Homo sapiens: one gene and its partner. Each later gene encodes a partner of the first gene's protein in a complex. Each region holds a gene or a part of one and is shown in the gene's direction. Other genes may lie near its edges. The genes, in order: PNOC and OPRL1.

The links.
Region 2: the proteins of PNOC (region 1) and OPRL1 are in contact, whole or in part, in a cryo-EM structure (PDB 8F7X), measured with the Homo sapiens proteins. Residues at the interface, in NP_006219.1 of Homo sapiens: Phe130, Gly131, Gly132, Phe133, Thr134, Gly135, Ala136, Arg137, Lys138, Ser139, Ala140, Arg141, Lys142, Leu143; in NP_000904.1 of Homo sapiens: Gln107, Asp110, Gly114, Phe115, Trp116, Val126, Ile127, Asp130, Tyr131, Met134, Gln192, Glu194, Ile198, Glu199, Cys200, Leu201, Val202, Ile219, Val279, Gln280, Val283, Gln286, Gln291, Pro292, Ser293, Val298, Leu301, Arg302, Thr305, Tyr309.

Annotation. Positions count from the first base shown.
Region 1 is NC_000008.11:28,313,178-28,320,442, forward strand, and holds the start of PNOC (prepronociceptin isoform 1 preproprotein), read left to right. Parts: upstream 1-4,090; 5' UTR 4,091-4,139; intron 4,140-7,265.
Region 2 is NC_000020.11:64,096,862-64,101,199, forward strand, and holds the end of OPRL1 (nociceptin receptor), read left to right. Parts: intron 1-940; coding exon 941-1,296; intron 1,297-1,414; coding exon 1,415-1,938; coding exon of another isoform or gene 1,939-2,025; 3' UTR 2,026-3,772; downstream 3,773-4,338.

The DNA of each region.
Region 1 (7,265 bases):
ATCAGTACAGATTGGATTCTAATGTTTGCAGCCTCCCTGGTTGGGCCTCTATTGCAAAGAAGATGCCAAGCTGGTGTGGGCAGGAGTGAACTTCCGCCACCTCATAAGCAGAAGAAATCATTATTTTATTTTATTTTATTTTATTTTTATGAGACAAGGTCTTACTCTGTTACCCAGGCTGGAGTGCAGTGGCTCAATCATGCCTCACTGCAGCCTCAACTTCCCAGGCTCAAGTAATCCTCCCTCCTCAGCCTCCCAAGTAGCTGAGACTACAGGTGCTTACCACCACACCTGGCTAGTTTTTTATATTTTATAGAGACAGGGTCTTGCCGTGTTGCCCAGACTGGTCTTGAACTCCTGGGCTCAAGCAAACCTCCCACCTTGGCCTCCTAAAGTGCTGGGATTACAGGCATGAACCACCACGCCCAGCCAAGAATTTTATTAATTCCAAGTTCTTGTGCACACACACACACACGCATACACACACACGCGCGTGCACACACACACAAAGCAGTAGAAATAAGAACATGTGACCTTTCTTTTCCAACTATTTTAATAAATGTATCCTGCCAATCAGAAAAGCAGGGGGCAGCTTGCTGCTCTGTGACCAGTTACCATACCCAAGGGAAGCCCATGGCTCTCAAAGTGCCAAGTCTCAGTGGCTGTGTGGCAAGGGGGAAGCCCTGAAGCCATCACAAACGCCACACAGTCTGCACCATTTCTAGTCTACTTGTGCTTTTCTGAGGGGCAAGATTCTTCTACTCCCCCACCCAACAGTGGTTTTAAACTCCCTCCTGGGTTCATCCTGCCCTTCCCCATCCATCACTGGAGACAGCCTGCCACCACATGCAGCTTCATTCAACCCACCAAGAATATCCAGGTGTTGGGTTCAACTCTTCTGTCTGGTAAATGAGGAAAGAAAAGTCCAGAGAAGCTAAGTGACTTTTCACTCTTGCTCTTTCTCTTCCTCAACTGCAAGGGAAGAAAAGCATTTAGCTGCCTGAACATCCTGGGAATGACGAGGTGCTCAAAGGCAGGTGTGTTGGTTTAAGGTAATTTTCCACTGGATGTAATAGAAAATCCAACTAAATGGCTTAAATCATAGGAAGTAAAAGTTTCAAATGCCTCCAATGAATGGCTTCTGCATAGCCACCCTCTATTATCCTGGGACTTTGTAGTCTCCACCCAGCCTGGCTCTGGACAGTCTTGCAACTGGCCTTAGCCAACAAATGTAGCAAAAGCAATGGACTGCCAGCTCCATGCTTAGGTCTCAAGAGGTTCTGTGTGCTTGCGGTTGTTCCCTTGCTTGATTGTATTTGCTTGTGCTTTCACTTCAGGCTTGCCATGAGACTATGCCAGGTTAATATGCTGGAGGGATGTGAGAGACCCATGAAGGATAAGACATGTGCAAGAGAACCAAGGTCCCCAGCTGACACCCAGCCAACTTTCTGAGTCCAACTGCAGGTGCAGAAGAGAGTCAGGCTGAGACCAGAAGAACTGCCCTGCTGAGACTAGCCAAAATTCCCAATCTGTAGAATCATGAGTCAAATACGTGGTCTGTTGTTTCAAGCCTCTGGCCTTGGTGTGGCTTGTTATGCAGCAATGGGTAACTGAACCCTGACTGACATTTGAAATAAATGTTTGGGGTTTTTTTTGTTTTTTTTTTGTTTTTAAAAAAAGGTTGAAGTTTGGAGTCCAAGACTGATATGGCCATTCCATTAGTCATGGGGGACCCAAAATCCTTCCATCTTTATGTTCCATCATATTTACTCATGGCTTCCATCCTCAAAGTTGTCTTATCTCATAATCCAAGATAGCTGCTAGAGCTCCAGCCATCACATTTGTGTCCCAGGCAGGATGGAGGGAGGACAAAGAAGAGAGAGAGGCCTTCAGTGAGTTGACCCCCTTTAAAAGAGCTTTCCCAGCCAGGCTCAGTAGCTCACACCTGTAATCCCAGCACTTTGGGAGGCCGAAGTGGGCAGATCACAAGGTCAGGAGATCAAGACCATCCTGGCTAACATGGTGAAACCCCGTCTCTACTAAAAAAAAATACAAAAAAAAAATTAGCCAGGCATGGTGGCAGGTGCCTGTAGTCCCAGCTACTCAGGAGGCTGAGGCAGGAGAATGGCATGAACCTGGGAGGCAGAGCTTGCAGTGAGCTGAGTTGGCGCCACTGCACTCCAGCCTGGGCGACAGAGCAAGACTCCGTCTAAAAAAAAAAAAAAAAAAGCTTTCCTGGAAACCCCACCCAAGGACCTGCAGCTTAATGCTCATTGGCAACCCTTGGTCAATGGGAAATGTAGTCTTTTAGCTAAGTGCATTGATGCCTGGAATAAAATCAAGGGTACCGTTTAGTAAGGAAGAACAGGGAAATGGGGATTGGGTAGGCAGCCTGCAATATCTGCCACATCATGTATGAAATCAGGTTCCAGGCCTGAGACACTGAAGTACATCAGGATGCAAAAGTGACCCCGTGTCAGTCAGTGAACATGCTGGTTTCCCAAAGAGTCCAAAATGGTAGCTGCGACCTGCAGTGTAAGGTTTGGGCAACAGAGATCTAAGTGAAGAATCATGAGTATGCTGGTCTCCTGAGCCCTTTTGCTGTGAACACAGACGGAAGGGAAATTTTATTCTCAGAACCTGTTGCTCTTAACCTGAGCAGATGTTTGCTGTCTTTTTCCTATTTTCTTTTTATGGAGATGTAATTCCCATAACATAAAATGCACCATTTTAAAGCATACAATTTGGTGGGTTTTAGTATTCTTGCTATGTTGTGCAACCATCACCTCAGTCTAAATCCAGAACATTTCCATTACCCCAAAAAGAAACCCTATACCATTTGCAGTCAGGGCAGATGCTTCCCTCAATCCTTCTCCACCCAGTCCTGGGTAGACCAGAGAGCTGGACTTAACCACATGAATGAGTGCTTGAGCTCCTTGGATGACATAGGTTCAAACCCTGGGATTCTGGAATATTTTAGACCCTCTTAGGAAAACCAAGGACAGGGTCATGGTGAAATTCACCTAAGGTAAGGAAACGTGGGGTCCACAAGGATGCTAAACCCTCAAGCCTGTGCCTTCAGCCTGTGAGCTCCTTTCCTGCAGCCCACAACCCCCGGCGGCTGTAGAAGACAAAGAGGCTCTGCAGTAAGGGACAGGGAAGCTTCCAGAGCTTCTGAGCCTCCAGGGCCCTCGGTAGTGATGCCCTAAGTTGCAGAAGCTTTAAAAGCTCTCTGTTGTGACACCAGACACTGATATGGGATTTCTACATCCAGGTGGTACTAATCAGTGTGAAAAGCGGGCTGAGAGGAGAGGGAGGATGCAGCACATTCATTAAGGGCCTCGTGTGTTGTAGATTCAAACAGAATCTCCTTTTTCTACTCACAACCATCCTGGGCAGTATTAGACTCATTTTCCGGAAGGAGGACTTGAGGTTCACAAAGAGATGTGCCTTGCTCTGACTGTACAGCCGAATTTCAGACACTTCCATCTGAGCCTCGAGTCTCAGCATTCTCCATTGCACCATGCTGTGGGCACCTGTGGAAATGCCTCCTGACCTGGCCCAGGGCAGGTGCAGCCACCTCTTGAGTGGCCTAGTTAGGGGCAATGACATTAGGTCAGGGCTTGGCTTAGCTCAGCCCTGGGCTCCTCCGAGTCGGTAGGAGCTTGGCATGAGCTCCCCTCCCTTCTGCCTGCCTCCTATTCTTCACTCCTCAGGCAAAAAGGTTGCTCAAGGAGACTCCAGGATTTGGGGTCTGCCTCGTCACTGTCACCAGGAGGCTTTTTTTCTGACTTGCCAGAGCTCCCCATCAGTCCTCACAGAGCCTCTGGAAGCACAGGGAAGGCAGCTGTGGGATCCTGGCTGAACAGAGTCCAGGTGAAGCAGGCTTGAGAATGGATTGATGGGGAGGTGGGGATGTCACAGGTCTGATGGCAGAGCCGGGGGAAGGGAACAGCCAGGAAGGCTTGCAGGTTCTGCTGTTTGGTTGCTGAAGGGGGTCAGTGTGTGTATGTGTCATGGAGGTGGGCAGGGAAGGGGAGGGCTGTGCGTGGGGGAGAGGATATATATGCTGGTGTGGCTGAGAAAGCGGAACCGAGCCTCGCATCCATCGGAGGGAGCCGGGGACTGACAGCTCTCAGGTAGGCAACTGCACGGGGCCCCCAGCCCGACCGCGACTAACTGGACTAACTGCGTGGAGCTCCGGGAGGGCAGGGCCACCAGGGGCTGGCTCCTCGGCCTCTCTCCTTTGTCCAGTGTGGATGCTGCTGGCCTCTTGCGAGATGGTTTCTTCATTCATCTCCTTTGTAGCGCTTGGATGGTGGGGAACGGGGGAGGGCTGAGTCTCTTTTTTAACCTCAGACAGACGCAGAAGCAGAAAGAGGGGAACTTGGAAATGAGGAAAAGTTTTGCTTCCCCAGCTGTGGCCCCTACGTGGTTGTTGCTCTGTGTCGAGAGGAGGCTGCTGGAGGAGTGAGGCCAGAGGAGGGGCAGGCACTTGGGAGGGGGTTTGCCTTCCACGGGGCGGCCCCCAGGAAGACCCTGGCCCCCTCATGAGGGTTTCCTCTCAGTGGCTTCCTTTCCTCTCAGATGCGGTGCGCAGGCTGCTTCTCCGCCTATCACTGAACTTGATGCCATCCAGATGGGAGTTTTTAATCCGGAGGGAGCCCTTCTCCCTTCTGCCCCCAGCAGAAATTGCTACAAATAATGGGGAAGCGCCAGATCTGGGGAGTGTGCTTCACCTGTATACACACACTGCTGAGCGCCACGGCGTGTGAATTCCAGAGAGCATTTCTACGGGCGTGACCTTGGTCTCCCAGAACCCGATTCATTTAGAGGGCTCTTCTCTTGCTTGGCATCCCTCTCCCCCTGCCCATCTCCCCCACCTAAAGGTCTTTGCCCAGGTCATGCAGAATACTCCGTTCATAGTCACCGCATCCCAACTCTCGAGGCTCTCTCAGCCACCTTCTTTCTTCCTCCTCTCTTTGTGCATCTCTCTCCCTCGAGTCTTGCTTCCCCGGCTTCACTACCCAGCCCCTCCTCCCCGAATCTCGCTCTGAACATGGGCAAGTTCTGGGGGAATTTCAAGTAAGGCAGGATGATTCGGGAAATGGACTATTTAAAGCAAGCTGCTTTGGACTTGAATACCCCCATCCTGCGCTTAAACATCTGTGTTTAGCTTCCTCAAGCAGCCCATAATTGCCCCAATTATAACCAATAACATTGTTCGGCAGACTAACAAAAGATGAGCTTTGCACGGCATTCGCCAGCAAGCCCAAACCAGAGTTTTCAACATAGATGGGAAAAGTAACTGCCTGGCTTCTTATCAAAACCTCCCAAAGCAAATACTGCTCTTTTTCGCTGCTTGTGGGTGGCTACTGCATGCAGCCTCTTTTTTTCTCATTTGTAAAGTGTGGCAGGGAAATATTCTACAAGCTTACACTGAGGCTATGTTACCTTTAACAAAAAGGATTCGTGCTCCTTTGGGCTTGCTGAGTCTTCTGCAGAGGAGGGTCCCTGGAAAACCCATCCCCAACCATCACCACCTCTGTAAAAGCATGTGCCGCCTGGTGCTGCCTGGCGAGGGCGCTGTGGTACAGCCTCGGGTCATTTTGAGGGCGCAGTTTTGTTGCGCACAGGGCAGCAGCCCCTGCTTTATCAGCTGAAGGCTGAGAGTACTTACGGATTTGTAAAATGCAGGCGAGTTTGCATTGTCAGTGAAGGGAGTGATTGCAGGATTAGGCTCAAACCTGTGCTCCCTGGAGCCTATGACAAGAGCTGTCACTAAGCTATCCTGTATTCAATCAATCAGGTAGTTACCGTCTACACTCCACCAGGCAGGGAGGCTTGCAGGGGCTCTAGTAGATTCAGCAGAGGTGATAATAACAGCACTTTACATTTGTACAACGATTTAGGCGCTTTCACACCTATTATCCCAGCAACAGCCCTGTGAGGTGGTGCCATTATCTCGGTGTTGCAGTTGGAGAAACTGAAACTGAGAGATTAAATGATTTATTCAGTACATGGCAGGGTCAGGACTGAGCCAAGGCATTGTGGCTCCAGTTCATCTCCCCGTTACGGTCAGGGGTGCTTATGAACTCATAGTGGGGTCGGGGGTAGAGGAGAGACGTAACACAAACATGAGAAACAATTAGAGGACCATGCAAGGCAGGGTGTAATTCAGTCCTAAATCACATAATCCAGAGAGCAAGTGCTAGAAGAATTCGGGAGAAGGAGCATTTCCTCCAGGCATTCCTGGGATCCTACCAAGTGAGAAGGCAGGTGGAATTTGGATGGGTGAAGGGCTTTGAAGAGGGAGGCAGCAGCCAGGTCAAACACATAAAATGAGGGCAAAGGAATTAACATTTCTTGAAACCCACTCTGTGCCAGGCAGTGAGCTAAGCTTGTCTACGTGCTTATTTCATGCTAATACACACATGCACATATGCACACTGGTAGGAATGGGAAGTTTCAGGTGAGCGTTCTCTACTTGCACTGACACGGTTCAGTGATCCCTCATTTCTCCATCCAGCTCCACAGCTCCCAAAGCCCACGAAGGAAGCTTTGAAATATCTTGCATTCCGAGTCTGGGTGGAGCTACTCCTCAGATATCTTAGGAAAGGGACGGGCCCTTCTCAGAAAACGGGAGCCGTCCTGACAATGAGTGGCTGGCAGTGGCTTGAATTGCTGGGCAGTCATGAAGCAAACTGGATTTTCTAAACGCCTTTATTTAAATCCCACAGTCGAACATAAAGTTTTCCATCTAATCACAAACTAGTCATGAGATTTGGAGCACATCGATTTCAGGGGCAAGCCAGTTTTCTGGGCATCTCCCTGGATAGGCTACAATTAGTTTCAGTCTCAATTTTCCACGATCCTGTGGGGTTTTTTTTGTTTGTTTCTTTCTTTCTTTCTTTCTTTTTTTTTTTTTTTTTTTTTTTTTTTTTCAAAATACTGGCAGCTGCTTCAACATTGCAGAAGCACAAAATCATCAGCCCGGGGGCCCAGCCTGGCAGGTGGAGTAGATAGCATGCCTCACCATGCACCCCAGCTCTGCCATCCCACAGTGGCTCAGATCCAACCTCCCCTCTTTCCACACTGGCCTGCAATCTTCCCCCCACCCTCCTTCCCCATTCATCCTTTCATTCATTCGGCCAAGGAACGTGTGTGGGGTTCCTGATAGGAGCCACACAGAGCAAGTGCCAGGAGCACAGGGTGGCCAGAGCGCTGGCTTCCTCCAAACTCACAATGGGCTTCAGGAGACTGAG
Region 2 (4,338 bases), on another chromosome or scaffold:
ATCACCACCACCACCATCATTACCATCATCATCACGACCATCACCACCATCATCACCATCACCACTATCACCACCACCACCATCATTACCATCATCATCACGACCATCACCACCATCATCACCATCACCACTATCACCACCACCACCATCATCACCATCACCATCATCACAGTCATCACCATCATCACCATCATCATCATCACCACTACCATCACGCTCACAGTCATCACCATCACCACCATGATCACTGCCATCATCACCACCACCATCACCACCATAATCCCCCCCAACTATTACAACCATTAACTTATTTAACAAAAATTTATTAATCACCAACGATTTTCCCAGCCCTTTCCAGCACCATTTCAGGTGCTTGGATACACTCATACCTTATTAGCATCCCTCCTGTCCCCCCGTCACCATTTTCGGTCTCCATTGCTAGGCAGCAGTGTGGACTTGGAAGCCTTTTGATATGTTCTTACAGATTCTGGAGCCCTCAGAAACCTCTGGCAACTGTAGGGTCAGCATTTGAGTCTGTGAGGGGTCATGGAGGGGACTCAAAAGCAAGGGGAGCAGACTCTTTCCCTTAGGGCTCTAAACCTTTGCTCCTGTGCAGAATCCGGGGTGTGTTCTGGTAGCCTACATGCCCTGACTCCTCTAAAGTAGACCTGTGTTTAAGGCTTGGAATCCTTCTGTGTGTGTCAGAGTCACTTGAGGAGCTGGTTAAGACGTTTGACCCCAGGCCCTACCCCCTGAGACTGACTCATGAGTCTCAGGTTGGGTCCAGGAGCTATCACTTACCAAGCCCCCATGGGAACTCTGATGTTAAGGGACTCAGGGCCACTGTAGCTTGTGGTGGCCAAGAGGAGCCCCTTGCCCTTTGCTGCCTGGTCCAGCCAGCATGGCCAAGTGAAGCCTTTCTTCTCCCTCTACTCCGCAGGCACACCAAAATGAAGACAGCCACCAATATTTACATCTTTAACCTGGCCCTGGCCGACACTCTGGTCCTGCTGACGCTGCCCTTCCAGGGCACGGACATCCTCCTGGGCTTCTGGCCGTTTGGGAATGCGCTGTGCAAGACAGTCATTGCCATTGACTACTACAACATGTTCACCAGCACCTTCACCCTAACTGCCATGAGTGTGGATCGCTATGTAGCCATCTGCCACCCCATCCGTGCCCTCGACGTCCGCACGTCCAGCAAAGCCCAGGCTGTCAATGTGGCCATCTGGGCCCTGGCCTCTGTTGTCGGTGTTCCCGTTGCCATCATGGGCTCGGCACAGGTCGAGGATGAAGGTCAGTGGGGTGTCCCCTCCTCCCCTCACCAGGCTCCCTGGCTCCCGGGTGGCTCCTCTGGGCCCACGTGCCCTCCACGTCTCCTGGGCCCACTCTGACCCCGTTTCTCTCCCTGCAGAGATCGAGTGCCTGGTGGAGATCCCTACCCCTCAGGATTACTGGGGCCCGGTGTTTGCCATCTGCATCTTCCTCTTCTCCTTCATCGTCCCCGTGCTCGTCATCTCTGTCTGCTACAGCCTCATGATCCGGCGGCTCCGTGGAGTCCGCCTGCTCTCGGGCTCCCGAGAGAAGGACCGGAACCTGCGGCGCATCACTCGGCTGGTGCTGGTGGTAGTGGCTGTGTTCGTGGGCTGCTGGACGCCTGTCCAGGTCTTCGTGCTGGCCCAAGGGCTGGGGGTTCAGCCGAGCAGCGAGACTGCCGTGGCCATTCTGCGCTTCTGCACGGCCCTGGGCTACGTCAACAGCTGCCTCAACCCCATCCTCTACGCCTTCCTGGATGAGAACTTCAAGGCCTGCTTCCGCAAGTTCTGCTGTGCATCTGCCCTGCGCCGGGACGTGCAGGTGTCTGACCGCGTGCGCAGCATTGCCAAGGACGTGGCCCTGGCCTGCAAGACCTCTGAGACGGTACCGCGGCCCGCATGACTAGGCGTGGACCTGCCCATGGTGCCTGTCAGCCCGCAGAGCCCATCTACGCCCAACACAGAGCTCACACAGGTCACTGCTCTCTAGGCGGACACACCCTGGGCCCTGAGCATCCAGAGCCTGGGATGGGCTTTTCCCTGTGGGCCAGGGATGCTCGGTCCCAGAGGAGGACCTAGTGACATCATGGGACAGGTCAAAGCATTAGGGCCACCTCCATGGCCCCAGACAGACTAAAGCTGCCCTCCTGGTGCAGGGCCGAGGGGACACAAGGACCTACCTGGAAGCAGCTGACATGCTGGTGGACGGCCGTGACTGGAGCCCGTGCCCCTCCCTCCCCGTGCTTCATGTGACTCTTGGCCTCTCTGCTGCTGCGTTGGCAGAACCCTGGGTGGGCAGGCACCCGGAGGAGGAGCAGCAGCTGTGTCATCCTGTGCCCCCCATGTGCTGTGTGCTGTTTGCATGGCAGGGCTCCAGCTGCCTTCAGCCCTGTGACGTCTCCTCAGGGCAGCTGGACAGGCTTGGCACTGCCCGGGAAGTGCAGCAGGCAGCTTTTCTTTGGGGTGGGACTTGCCCTGAGCTTGGAGCTGCCACCTGGAGGACTTGCCTGTTCCGACTCCACCTGTGCAGCCGGGGCCACCCCAGGAGAAAGTGTCCAGGTGGGGGCTGGCAGTCCCTGGCTGCAGACCCCGAGCTGGCCCTGGGCCAGCCGCACCTCTGAAGGTTTTCTGTGTGCTGCACGGTGCAGGCCTCATCCCTGACTGCAGCTTGACTCTGGGCCCAACCCCCATTTCCCTTCAGGAGACCAGCGAGAGGCCCTGGCCCATTCCCTCCAGCGGTGCAATGAACTATCATGCTGTGGACCGTCAACCCAGCCCTGCTTCTCAGTGTGGGGCAGGTGTCTCAGGACGAAGGCGCCGCGTGACCACATGGGCAGCTCTGTTCACAAAGTGGAGGCCTCGTTTTCCTGGTCTTGACTGCTCTGTTTGGGTGGGAGAAGATTCTCTGGGGGTCCCCACATCCTCCCAAGGCTCCCCTCACAGCCTCTCCTTTGCTTGAAGCCAGAGGTCAGTGGCCGTGCTGTGTTGCGGGGGAAGCTGTGTGGAAGGAGAAGCTGGTGGCCACAGCAGAGTCCTGCTCTGGGGACGCCTGCTTCATTTACAAGCCTCAAGATGGCTCTGTGTAGGGCCTGAGCTTGCTGCCCAACGGGAGGATGGCTTCACAGCAGAGCCAGCATGAGGGGTGGGGCCTGGCAGGGCTTGCTTGAGCCAAACTGCAAAGGCTGTGGTGGCTGTGAGGACACTGCGGGGGTTGGGGGGGGGGCGTCTGTACCTCAGGGGATGCCCCGCTGTGGTCACCCAGAGAATCACCCTTCCTGGTCTACAGATGGAAGCTGCAGGTTGGTGACTTTGCAAATGCACTTCCTACAGATGAACTATTAAAAGACCTGCAACATTGAAAAAACTCATTTTTTCCACCAAAACCTTGGCCAGGTAACCTACCTTAGGCACCTGCAAAGAACAGGAAGTGATGGCTGTCTCGCAACAGAGCCTGGGCTGCTCCTCCTGCTCTGGGGAGTCTAGGCCGTGGGGACTGTTCTGGGGAGGCTCATGCTGTCTCCATGACGTCTGTGGCAGGAGTCCCTGAGGACGGGAGCTGCCTAGCTACAGTTTTCTTGCCAAGGCGAGGTGTTTTGTGAATCTGTGCTGATGTAATGTGCACCTTCACGTATTTATGCATGTGGCAAGCGTTACTTCCTGTGCACGTAGCCAGCCCTGGGTCTGTCTCTGGGGTAATGAAAAAGGACCCTAATAAACACCTGCTCACTGGCTGGGTATTCTTTGTAACCAGTGTTTCTGGCTCCTGCCACCTGGGGATTTGCTTCTGGAGTGACTTTTCTGGGATTGGCACGTGGGTGGGAGGAGGCTATGGGTTTAGGCTGAATTCTTGTACCTGTCCTGTGCTGCTCAACAGGCTGGGCTCTGCCCTCAGTGAAACGTCCCCCAGGAGGCTGCAACCCTGGGGAGAGTTGAAGCCAGTTAATGGTGTGTTGGCCGGGCTGTTACCTTTTCTTCAGCACACACGGTTTCTCTCTAAACAACCGATGGCTGCACCTCTCCCCTGCCCCCTGGAAAGAGAGGTTTCCTGAGGATACAGTGGGAGGGTGCTGCTCCCACCCAGGTTGCAGGGTTTTCTTACCCCCATTTCATCTCAGAAGAACCCCTGCTCCTGCTCATTTCCCCTTCCTTGAGCAGATCTGAGGGGAGTTTTGGTGAAGGATGAGCAGACGGCCTCCTCTAGGGCTGGGTACACTCTTGCCATGGACATCTGCCTCCTGGTTCCTGTTTGGCCCAGTTCAGCCCAGGCCGACCTGCAAAACAGAGCAGCTTTGGAGGGTGGGCA